Regions from separate parts of the Homo sapiens genome. Here region 1 is linked to region 2. Evidence: fine-mapped expression QTL. A gene starts in region 2. The other region holds a variant in brackets. All regions are shown on one strand. Distances are from middle to middle. Region 1 overlaps NPHP4 (nephrocystin 4). Region 2 holds the start of NPHP4 (nephrocystin 4).

The links.
Region 1: its variant is fine-mapped to the expression of NPHP4 in tibial nerve (GTEx, PIP 0.97).

What each region holds. Positions count from the first base shown.
Region 1 is chr1:5,884,838-5,890,203 of GRCh38, reverse strand. NPHP4 (nephrocystin 4) reads left to right here. Exons shown (of 30, transcript NM_015102.5): 18 at 2,738-2,918. Among named protein-coding and RNA genes, the nearest start is that of MIR4689, 25 kb to the right of the region's middle. The variant G/C (reference allele first, on the strand shown) is at 2,512.
Region 2 is chr1:5,990,423-5,995,788 of GRCh38, reverse strand. It overlaps NPHP4 (nephrocystin 4), which reads left to right and starts at 3,364. Exons shown (of 30, transcript NM_015102.5): 1 at 3,364-3,545. It also overlaps a transcript of KCNAB2 not described here. RefSeq lists enhancers at 2,015-2,064, 3,941-4,795 and silencers at 2,815-3,064, 3,145-3,324, 3,365-3,534, 3,685-3,864.

The sequences.
Region 1 (5,366 bases), 110 kb after region 2:
CGTCATTATTGCAGCCCCTGAGTCTCTGAGATTTCCCCACTTTTCTTGAGTGCCGCATAGCTGCTTTCCTCCTGGATTCCTGACACGGCTGAACCCCCGGGGCTTCCTGTCCTCTCCAGCAGCTGCTGACCCCTGAGAAGCACGGCTCCTCTGCTCCTTCAGCTGCGCTGTGCTCTCGGGGTGGGGGGATGGGGTATGGGAGTTTTTCCAGCTGCTCTTCCTCTGAGGCATGGTCTGCTCTTGGCTCCCCGTGTGACCGACTGATCCAGGCTCCATCCCTGCTCCCTGTGACTTCTAGAGGAGGGGGATGCCCCCCAGGGTGGTGGGCTGTGCACAGAACGTTCAGGGTGGGGTCTGCAGGTGGCAGGGACTCCGCAGGGCTTGGCTGCTCTTCTCATGCCTCACCCTGGGCCTCTGTTCCTGTTGGGGTCATGGCAAGGGCCCCACAGGGTCATCGTGGCCCTTGCTTGTCCGTCTCCCATGCTGGCTTTGATGTCCCCAGGGCAGGACTGTGTGTCGACACCACAGCATCTCTAGCACAGGCCTCAGCCCCAGCAGGCTCTGCATGGTGGGGAGGCGTAAAGGAGGCAGGCGGTGTGGGAGGCAGAGCCGGGTCCCGCTGGGCATGTGTGGGGTGGCAGTGGCTCCCCTGTCGTGCCCAGCCGAGCCTTGTGCCCCCTCTTTGCTGTGCCACCTGGAGACGGAAGCCATTTGATCTCCCCCTACACGAAGAGCCCCTTAAACAAGTGCCGTTACGCTTGTTGACATAGACTTGAATAAATTAAATTTAAAGCTTCACTTTTCTAAAATAAAATCTTGTAACTTTAAAACTTAGGTAGAAAACGTGAAAAACTGAGATGATCAGAGAGAATCCTCTGGACTCCAGATCCTGGGAGAGTTAGGTTGCTCCGGTTAGCCTTTGGTGGACTTACTTTCTGCAGGCGGGGCCAGCTTTCATCTTGTTTGAGCTCTTGCTGTTGCGGGTCACTACAGTGGCTTTTCCTTCTGCTAATCACTGCTGTGGACTTCTTGAAGTTCAATTTTACCCCCATCTTCTAGTTGATTTCCTGGGGGTGCTGGCCGTAACACGTTGCTACGACGATGAGAAGAGTTTCCTCTAGGGACGGACGGCTCCTGTGCTGCCTTCAGTGTGACCCCTAGCCCAGCCCTGGGGCAGTTCTGTTTTTATCCTTGTTTCTGGTGGAGAAAACAGAGGCCCAGGGTCACACTGATGATCATCAGGGCAGAGTCTTAGCCTAATTCTGTCTCCGGGGCTTGTGCTATTTACCATCCTCTTCTCCCTAATGACATGTTCCCGGAAGTAGAATTCTGATGGTGCCACCGTGAGGGCCGCAGGCATGCAGAGCCAGATGGGGGTTTGGCCCGAAGGCTCAGCCAGGCCTGCACTTCCTGAAGACAGAGGGCACTGTGTCCCATGTCCTTGGCTTCACAGTGTGTCAGCCTTTAAACCAGTCGCCAGTGGCCATTTTGATAATGATTTGGGAGGAAAATGGTGCCTTGTTTTCATTCGCATTTCCTTGCCTCTTGGAGAAGCTGACATGGTTTCTTGTATTTGTTGGCTGTTCCCTAAAGGAGACTTCTCATATCTTCTCAGTCTCCCAGTGACTGAGGTTCCGGAATCATCGATGTCTATGCAGTGATCGTATGCAGTGTAGACGAGTGTGGCAAAGCGACCAGGGTCTGCGGCGACCGGAAGCCCCCAGACCCACAAGGGAAGGGTCAGGTCTGGCGTCTCACTCCCAGAGACAGGCACTTTTGTTGCTGTAGAAACTGGAGAATTACAAAATCCGGAACCTCATCTGCTCCCACACTGCTTCTTATGTGAGAGGAAGCACCAGAGCAGAGAGGGCACGGGGGAAGAGTGTCCCAGCCACGCCTGGGGCACAGCCGTGAGGCCGTTGTCATCCCCCACATGCCTCACAGTGTTGGCGTTCGGGCAGAGTGCTGAGCCGTGGAATCTGATCAGCAGAAGAGCCCGTGGTCAGGAAAGTCCTGCTGAGGCCCTGCTGGGTCTGAGGCTTCCTGCTCCCACCCTGCCCCGAGCAGCCTCGGCCTGGCATGCAGAACTGGGCCAAACCCCAGCCCAGGGCTCCCGGCGGGCCTCTCGTGCCCCATGGCCCCTCCCTGGGCCCCACGGGCCTCTACCCCAGCCATGCTTCCTGGCCCAGGGAAACGGGGGAGGCATTGTACCCTGTACCCTGTGCCCTGTGCCCTTGGCCTGGCCTGCCTCCCCGGCCTTCTCTGCCTCCCCTGCCCTCTCTGTGCATGGCCTGTCTTCCTCCTGGAGTCCCATTGGGGTTTCCGTCCTGGATTCCTCGCTGTCCCAGACACGCTTGGCTAAGAGTCCTTTGCGTTGCTTGGCTGCCCTCTTTCCTGCTCTTGCTTCCTGTGGAGGGGAGGATCCTCCAGGGCAGCTGCCAGACCCACTTATGCCTTCCCAGGGCCCAGTGGTATTTATTCAGTGGGTAAATCCAGTCATACTTTACTTAA[G/C]ACTTTGTGAAAAAGACCCCAGTAATAAGGAGTCCTGCTTTAAGACGTTGGCGCCTGGCTCGCCGCCCCCTCACCCCCCAGCGTGGTGCAGGGTCTTATCCTGCGCACACCCCCTCCCGCCCACAGTGGCTTTCCTGCTGGGCTGGGGAGCAGCCTCCACCTGCAGGGCTGGTGGAAGCAGCCCAGGGCCGGCTCCAGCCTCTGAACGCGCTTTTCTCTTCTGCAGCATCTCCTCCGCCAAGGCCGGCCGGCTGTGCAGGCCTCCCACGAGCTTGAGGTCGTGGCAACTGAATACGAGCAGGACAACATGGTGGTGAGTGGAGACATGCTGGGGTTTGGCCGCGTCAAGCCCATCGGCGTCCACTCGGTGGTGAAGGGCCGGCTGCACCTGACTTTGGCCAACGTGGGTAAGAGTCCCCAGCCTTGTGCCATTTCTCCAGCGGCCGCCCAACCCCTCTGGTAGAGTGTGGGCTCCCTCGGGCAGGGGCCACATCATGGGCTTCACGGGCCCAGGAGGAAACCGGGAGAATTCTCACCAGCTTGGCCATGGAGCCTGTGTCCTTGGCCGCTGAGTCTGTCCTGGACCCAGTTGTTTGCATTCTGAATTTCTGATTGGGGTTAGAGGTCATCAGTCATCTCGGGCTCTCCTGCATGTTGTTGTTTGTTGCTATCCCTGGAGGATCTCCGGGACAGTCCTCAAATACAGTGACTGGGTTCCAGGAGAGACTTCCCTGTGCCTCATGATGGAGGACAGACAAGGGAAGTGTTCCTAACTTCCCTGCAGCCCGGGAGGAGGAGAGTGAAGAGGCGCATTTCTTCTCGGCCCAGCACCATGACTTTGTAGAAAATGGTGCCCCGGGATTGCTCGTTAGAGGGCCTGAGCAAAGCCCTGGACTTCACTCCACGTCCAGGACTGTGGTGGGTGGGACAGGTGGGTTGGGTGGCTCAGGAGGGTCCCACCTGGGACGTTCCAGGGGCTTCGACTGAGGCCTATGCTGGGATAGGGGCTGCTGATGGGGTGTCAAGGGACACAAGGCTGGGTGCCTGCCTGTGCGCACCTCAGGGCAGAGGACCGACATGGGACCCTGTAGGGCCAGTGACAAGCTCACTGAACCTCCCGAGGGTCCTCTGGAACGTTTGGGATTTTTCAGGGCAGAATTGAAAACACAATAAAACTAAGCCGTGTGATGTTTCTGAAGCTGTGTCTGTCTGCATGAGATTCAGACTTGTCTGCTATTTTATTAGGGAATTTTCCACTCCTTAGAACCCAGCCTGATTGTAAACCCCAGAGCCCCATGGGCCACATCCACCCGACGCTGGCAGCGCAGAGGTTGGTGGGGGGCCTGGCGGAGGGGCTCAAGTGCACAGCTCGTTAAGTCGACTTGGAGGCTCTGCCTGCCTGTTTACGAATGTACATCCGAGGCGGCCTGGTAAATAGACAATATGGACACAGCAAAACTCAATTAGGTTCTGGAGAAATAAATGAGCCACATGTGAGGAGCAGGCATTATTCAAAGGCTCATGCAACTAAGGGAGTTGCAAGAAGCGTTCTGCTCTGAGACCGAGTTGGTTGTTTTTATATTTAATTCTCCAGCCACCAAATGTGCAGTGACTCCAGGTTTTAAAATCTTATCTTCAGAAGAAAGATTGCCTCCATTATATGTTATCTCCAATTGTCATTTTCATACTTTGCCTGCAAGAGAGAGATAAGCTCATAGGAAGGGGAGGCTGAGATAGCCAGCCTGGGAGACTCCGGCGCTGACGGGAGAGGGAGAGGTTTTCACAAAGGTCGAATCCACCCGCAGCACTCTGCGCATCAGTGCAGCGAGCCTGGCTCTCCTCCGTCAGTTCTGCGTTTTTTGGAAAAAAAGGTGTTATGGCTTTTCTTTCTTCATAAAACTGGCTATTCTGTGGTACAGTAGGCGTCTCTCTGCTAGCAGCGTGGGTGCTGGCCATGGAAGCCTGCAGGGTTACCGCACGGGACAGAACCTGAGCCTCGGCCTCGGCCTGGATTCTGCTCTGGGCCAGCTGCATTCACAGTGCATGTTCCTGTCTGAGGCCACGCAAGGAAACCTGTGCCATGGCTGGGGACATGGGTGTCTGCCAGCTGGGCCCAGGGCCCTGGGACTCTGATGATGGGGAGAGGACTGCCCTCATGCTTGGTGGCTGCTTCACACAGCTGATTTCCTTGGCAGCCTCTTTTGCACTGTCTTTCGGTCAGCTTTTGTCGTCCAGGGACAGCAAGCACCAGATTGCTTTCTTTGATCCCAGTGATCTTGGTTGTGGAGTAGGATGGGTTCGGCTGGGAGCTTGGGCAGTGATCTTGGTTGCGGCGTAGGATGGGCTCGGCTGGGAGCTTGGGCAGTGATCTTGGTTGTAGAGTAGGACGGGGGTTTTTCTGGGAGCTTGGGCACTTATCTTGGTTGCGGAGTAGGACGGGTTTGGCTGGGAGCTTGGGCAGTGATCTTGGTTGTCGAGTAGGACGGGGGTTCAGCTGGGAGCTTGGACAGTGATCTTGGTTGTCGAGTAGGATGGGGGTTCGGCTGGGAGCTTGGGCAGTGATCTTGGTTGTGGAGTAGGACAGGGGCTCGGCTGGGAGCTTGGGCACTGATCTTGGTTGTGGAGTAGGACGGGGGCTCGGCTGGGAGCTTGGGCAGTGATCTTGGTTGCGGCGTAGGATGGGCTCGGCTGGGAGCTTGGGCAGTGATCTTGGTTGTGGAGTAGGACGGGTTCGGCTGGGAGCTTGGGCAGTGATCTTGGTTGTCGAGTAGGACGGGTTTGGCTGGGAGCTTGGGCAGTTATCTTGGTCGTGGAGTAGGACAGGGGCTCGGCTGGGAGCTTGGGCAGTGATCTTG
Region 2 (5,366 bases):
CCTCAGTTTCCCTATCCAGCCTCCCTCACAGGGTTGTTTACAAGTGCCGGAGGCGAACTGAGGTCATGAGTGTAGTTCCAGTGTGGGGAGGGTCCCTCCTTTCCTTCATCCCACCACGGACCTGGTGCCCTCACTCTTCTCTAACTATGGGGCCATCTCTTTGAAGGCCACGAACAACAGTACCCTTGCACCAGGGCCTGCATGCCAGGCAGGACTGAGTCGCTGAGAAATCTCCATGGTAGTGGCACCTCCCAGTCCCAAAAGCCCCTCCAGTGACCTGGACACACCCAAGGGCACTGGCTGCGCCCATGAATGTCAGCAATGCCTCCAAGTGGCCTTCTGAAGGGACAGCCGGTCATGTCCTCGGGGTGCTGGCTTCCCCCAGCTCGGACAGCCAAGGCATGAACTGGGCTCAAATAAGTAGGAAGTAGGGGGTCCAACCCAGCTCCGTCACTGCCTCTGTTGACCCTGGAGAAGCCTGTCCTTCCGTTTAGTCCTCTGAGAGCAAGGATGACCGGCTGCTGGGTGCCAAGACCCAAGTCCTCCTGGTGGTGGGAGGGGGACTGGCGGGAACATGGGGTCTATGGCCCTAGACACCTCTGGCATCAATCCTTCTCGAATTGCCGCCCCGAGCTGCCCACTGTCCTGCCTCCTTATTCAGGGACGCCAGGAAAACATTCACTCTGGGACCTCTGGCGGCGTGAATATCACTGAGAACTTAGCCGAGGACCAGACACATACCGCACCTGGCCAGAGTCCCTGGAAACAGAAGCACGGTCCCCTGGTTCTCGCGAGGGAGCAGGCTCTCCTTCCACACAGATGATGTGTTCCCAGTTACCACGGCAGAGCACCAACACACAGGAAGGTCTAGGGGAGGCCCCTCCCTCCAAGCCCAGGCCGGAAACTGCCAAATCAAAACTGTGTGGCACTCGCTTCCTCCTGAACCATTTGGGTCTTAGAAGATGACTGAAAAATGAAAGCGAGGAAGCCTTCTCTAGCTGGCCAGCCCATGGCACCCTCGGCCTTTCCAGCTCTCTAGCGCCATGGCCCACGTCCCACCTCCCGGGTGCAATGGCTTCTGTGCACACTGCTTCCCATCCAGGCTCCAAATCCAGACCCAAGACGGTTCTCAACCAAGAAACACACGAAAAGGGTTTCACACTTTTTCACGACACCCCCCAACTCCAGTGCCTGGCTCAGCCCCCAGGTGTTGACTAGCACCTACAAAGCATTTGCTGACTGGCGCAGGGAAAAAAAAAATGGCCCTGGGTGTCAACAGGGAAGCCCCTACCATGCTGCTCTCGAGGGATGTGCTGCGGCCCGAACACTGTCAGTGCCACTGAGGCCGAGTGTGGCCGTGGAGACAATGACAGGACCTGGAGGACCAAGTGCACTCTTAGGGCCCCACACTGCGAGAGCACAGGGCCAGGAGCTGCACAGGGCTCTGCAGCAGACACGGCCGCCAGGCGAGAATCAGGTGGGCAGATGTGACTCTCCACACGTAGGTCCCCAAACCCTGCAACCTGCAACGCGGGGCCTGAATGCGGCTTCCTTAGCAGAGCAGGAGCTTACTCTTGGCACTGGGGGAAAGGGGAGGGGTGAGGCTGGGGTTTTTGTCGGGGAGGAGAAGTTGCAGAGAAAGAAAAAATCCTGAAACGACAGACAGTGGGACAGCTGTGGCCTGAACTTGGTGTTCTTGCTCCTCGGATGTGGATGTATTAATTTCCATAAATGCTAATAGCCCACTTCCCCAAGAGCTATTACTTATGTCATCTCCCCTTGGACACAGTTCAACACAGGGCAGACAAATGAAAGGGAGGAAAAGACAACCCCCAGTGGCGGTCCCCAGCTCCTCAGCCCCCTCCCAACCAGGCAGCTCAGGTCTGGTTCCTAAGGTGGCCCTGCTAACCGCAGGGTCAAGACCCCTGCCTTCAGCTCCGTAGCCAGGTCCCTATCACGACAGGAAGCAAGAAAGTTACCAACCCCAAAAATGCTGAATCACAAAGTGAGGCTGAGCAGGAAAGTGGGGGTGGGGAGGGAAGGAGACGGTGGCCAGGGAGGAAAGGTGCTAAGGGGCTTTCCACCTGGAGCACCCCGGGATGCTGCGGGCAAAGCACAGTCCCTGTAAGAGCCCCCAGGACAAATGCCAGGAGGAGGGACACCAGGATGCGGCTGGTTGGCGGGGTGGGAAGGTGGGCAGGTACCCCGGCTGCTGCTAATGCCGCAGGACGCGGTGCAGCAGTGGGGTCTTTGCATCCTGGGAGCAGCAGCAGGTAGGGAGGTGCGGAAGTGCTTTGTGCCAAGGCCTGGCAGGAGGGAGAAGCTTAAGATAGGAGTAGGGGCTCAGGGTCAGAAGTGGCGGTGTGTGTGCTGTAAACAGCCCGAGGAACTGGTGCAGGAAGCAGGGTCACAGTCTTGGGGAGCAGGGTAAGGTGGTGAGAGCGTGCCCGCGGGGAGAGGTCGGAGGGGCTGGGGGCAGAATGGGAGGGTGGGGAAAGGGACCGGAGCGACACAGGGACAGGCAGCGAGAACGACGGATGAGCCTTGAGAAGCGATCAGGAGGAGAGATGGGGAGGACCGGGAACAGCAGCGCCCCGGTGGGGCTGCGCAGAGGCCGGGAGAGGGGATGAGAGGAGGATGGAGGAAAGGGGAGGGCGAGGCTGCTAGGACCGGAGCGGGCAGAGATGGGGAAGAGGTGCACCGGGAAGAGGGACGGCGGCAGGGGCAGGGGTCAGGGATGCGAGCTGAAGGGTCGGGCGGGCGGGAGGACAGGGAAGGAAAGACAGAAAGGGATGGGGGAAGGGAGACGATGGAGAAGGAGGTGAGGAGGCTGGAGAGGAGGTGAGACAGCGGCGGAGGCAGGGACGCAGGGCCGGGGAAGAAGAGATGGAGACGGGACCGCGGCGCCTGCCGCAGCGCGGGCCTCGCGGATACCCGCCGCCGCCGTCCCGGAGCAGCTTGGTGGAAAGCGCGCCCCGCCGGGGTCTCCCCGGTACTCACCTGGGGGCTCCAGCTCCGGATCCTGTGCCCCGCGCCGGATCTTCCTTCCCGCCCTGCCCCTGCGACTTTAGCGCCCCCGAATCCCGCTAGCTCCTGCAGGTTCCGCCAGCAGCATCTTCACCTCGTGGGACGCCCGGGGCCACGCCTCTTCCAGCTTCTGATTGGCTATTGTTCACGCCAGTCACATTACCATTGGTTGAGGGGTCGTCGGACATGCAAATCAGGATGGGCCCGCCGCCGCACCGATTGGCTGGCGCTCGCAAAGCGCAGCCCTCGACTTGGGCTCTGATTGGCTCCGCGGCCCTGACGGCGACAGTGACGCGAGGCGGGTTCTTGGACTGAGTGTGCGGCGCGGTGCGCCGCCTTCCGAGGCTCCTCCCGCGGGTGGCAGCGGACGGGGCGCGCCCCTCGGCCAGTCCTCGGTCCTCAGGCTTGTGGCTCCGTTGAGCACCGGCCGCCGGGCCTCTGGGTCCGTCGAGTGGAGACTCTCTGAAAAGCGTGGGCTCCGTGGCCTCCGGCGCGGCCGCGGCGGGTCGGTCTCCTAGGTAACGCGGCCCGCGGCGGGCGGAACCATGTGGGCCGGCGCCGCGGGGGAGGTTGGACGCGGCCTCGAGGCACAGGGGGCCTCAGTGTTGGCCAGAGCCTCGGGGTTCGGGGGTAGGGTGGTCCACGCCGTCCCTGCGTGGGGGCCCGGTGCCTGGGGTGCGGCGGTGGCGCGCGGCGGGGGCTGTCCCCGCGTTAGTCGCAGGCGTCCCCCCTCGTCGGGACACTTGGGGTCGGGGCCGCTGGGTGCCGTTTGGCTACGTGGGTTCCTTTCTGCCCTTGCCCTTTGCCCCCTGCCCCCTGCCCCCTGCCCCCTGCCCCCTGGCCTCTCTGCAGCCCCTCGGCTGAAGGGAGCGCGGTACCGATGTTCTGGGCCTTGGCTCCCCGCGCCCTAGTCCGCGCGCATCCTTCCCAGGCCGGAGTCCGCGGACCCCGCCTGGCCGCGCCCCTCCGCCCCTCCTCCCCGCCCCCCGGCTCCAGCTCCGGCTCCGGCTGTCAGTTCCCCGCGGTGGCTCTGCGGCCTTCGGGCGTCCCTGCGAGGCTTTGTACCCGGCGCCGTCCCGGCCTTCTGCGCCCCTTTCCTGCCTTGGAACCTCCCGGCCGACCCGGCCCGGAAGGCGCCACCCGCTCCCGCGTGCCCTTCCCCACGCGTGCAGGCTGCTCCCGCCCGCCCCCGGGCTTGCAGGCACCTCGCTGCCCGAGATTCCTCGTGTCTAACTTCTTAGGAGACCGCTGCTTTCTGCCTCCGTGTGTCGCGATGTGTGGCTTTGGTGGACGTCTGTGAAGGAAATCCAGCCTCTCGCGTGTGTAGTTGGCAAAAGGAGGAGTATTTCTGTTGATGGTGGGCAGCGCCTCCCGGTCCTAACCCAGGGCTCCGTTCGTTGCACCTCCTCTGTGCAGTTTCCGTAGGTCACACTTGTGTCTTTTTGTATGCTAATTTGTGCCCCGTTTCTTTACATTCTATGGGGGTAGCGAGCTTGTCTGCTGTGTTCAAGACCGTTTCTCCCGGGCGCAGGGTAGGTGCTGAAAGAATGCTCATGAATGAGGGAATTCCAGGCAGTGCTTAATCAGACCTCTGCTTCCCCAAAAGCTCCCCAAGGCATCTGGGTCTCAGGCATTACACATTTTCCATTCCGGGAAGGAGGCTTCCCGGACCCTGACAGCGCCTCCCACCCCCTGCATCTTCCTTCAGCCCTGCTCACCTCTGCACCCTCCCGGGGGCCTGTTGCTGCTCACAGTCACTTTCTTGTCTTTCTCCCCCACTGGCTTTCTAGATGCTTGAAGACAGCACATTTGACAGCCTTCTTATGCACTGGAACACAAGTGCTCGGGAAATAGTTGCTGAATAGATCAGCAGAAGCAGAGATCTCAAGGAGATTTCACAGCTCTCATTTTGGAGGTTGGAAACAGGTGGGGAGGCTGCGAATCTGTCCTGAAGTTAAAGAGGAGACAGCATTAGCCCTGGGTTCCTTTGGTGCTCTTACTTTTTCCCTCTGGGCCTCTCTTCTCCCTTGGCCTCTCCTGGCCTCCTTGATTGAGGTAGTGGGAGGTAGTTATAATAGCTTACAGTATTATATCTATAATACTATTATAATAGCTAGTTATAATAGCTAGCTGTGTGACCTTGGATTGGCTGTTTATCCTTTCTGAGTCTCAGTGTTCTCATCTGTAAGATGGCGATAATGATGATTCTCATTTGGCAGAGTTGTTGGAATAGTAACCATAGAATGTGAGTTCCTGTCTTGCATCAGGGGCTCATTAAAAGTGGGTGTATTTTCTTCTTCTTCTTTTTTTTTTTCCCCTGGAGAGCCCACTGTACCCTT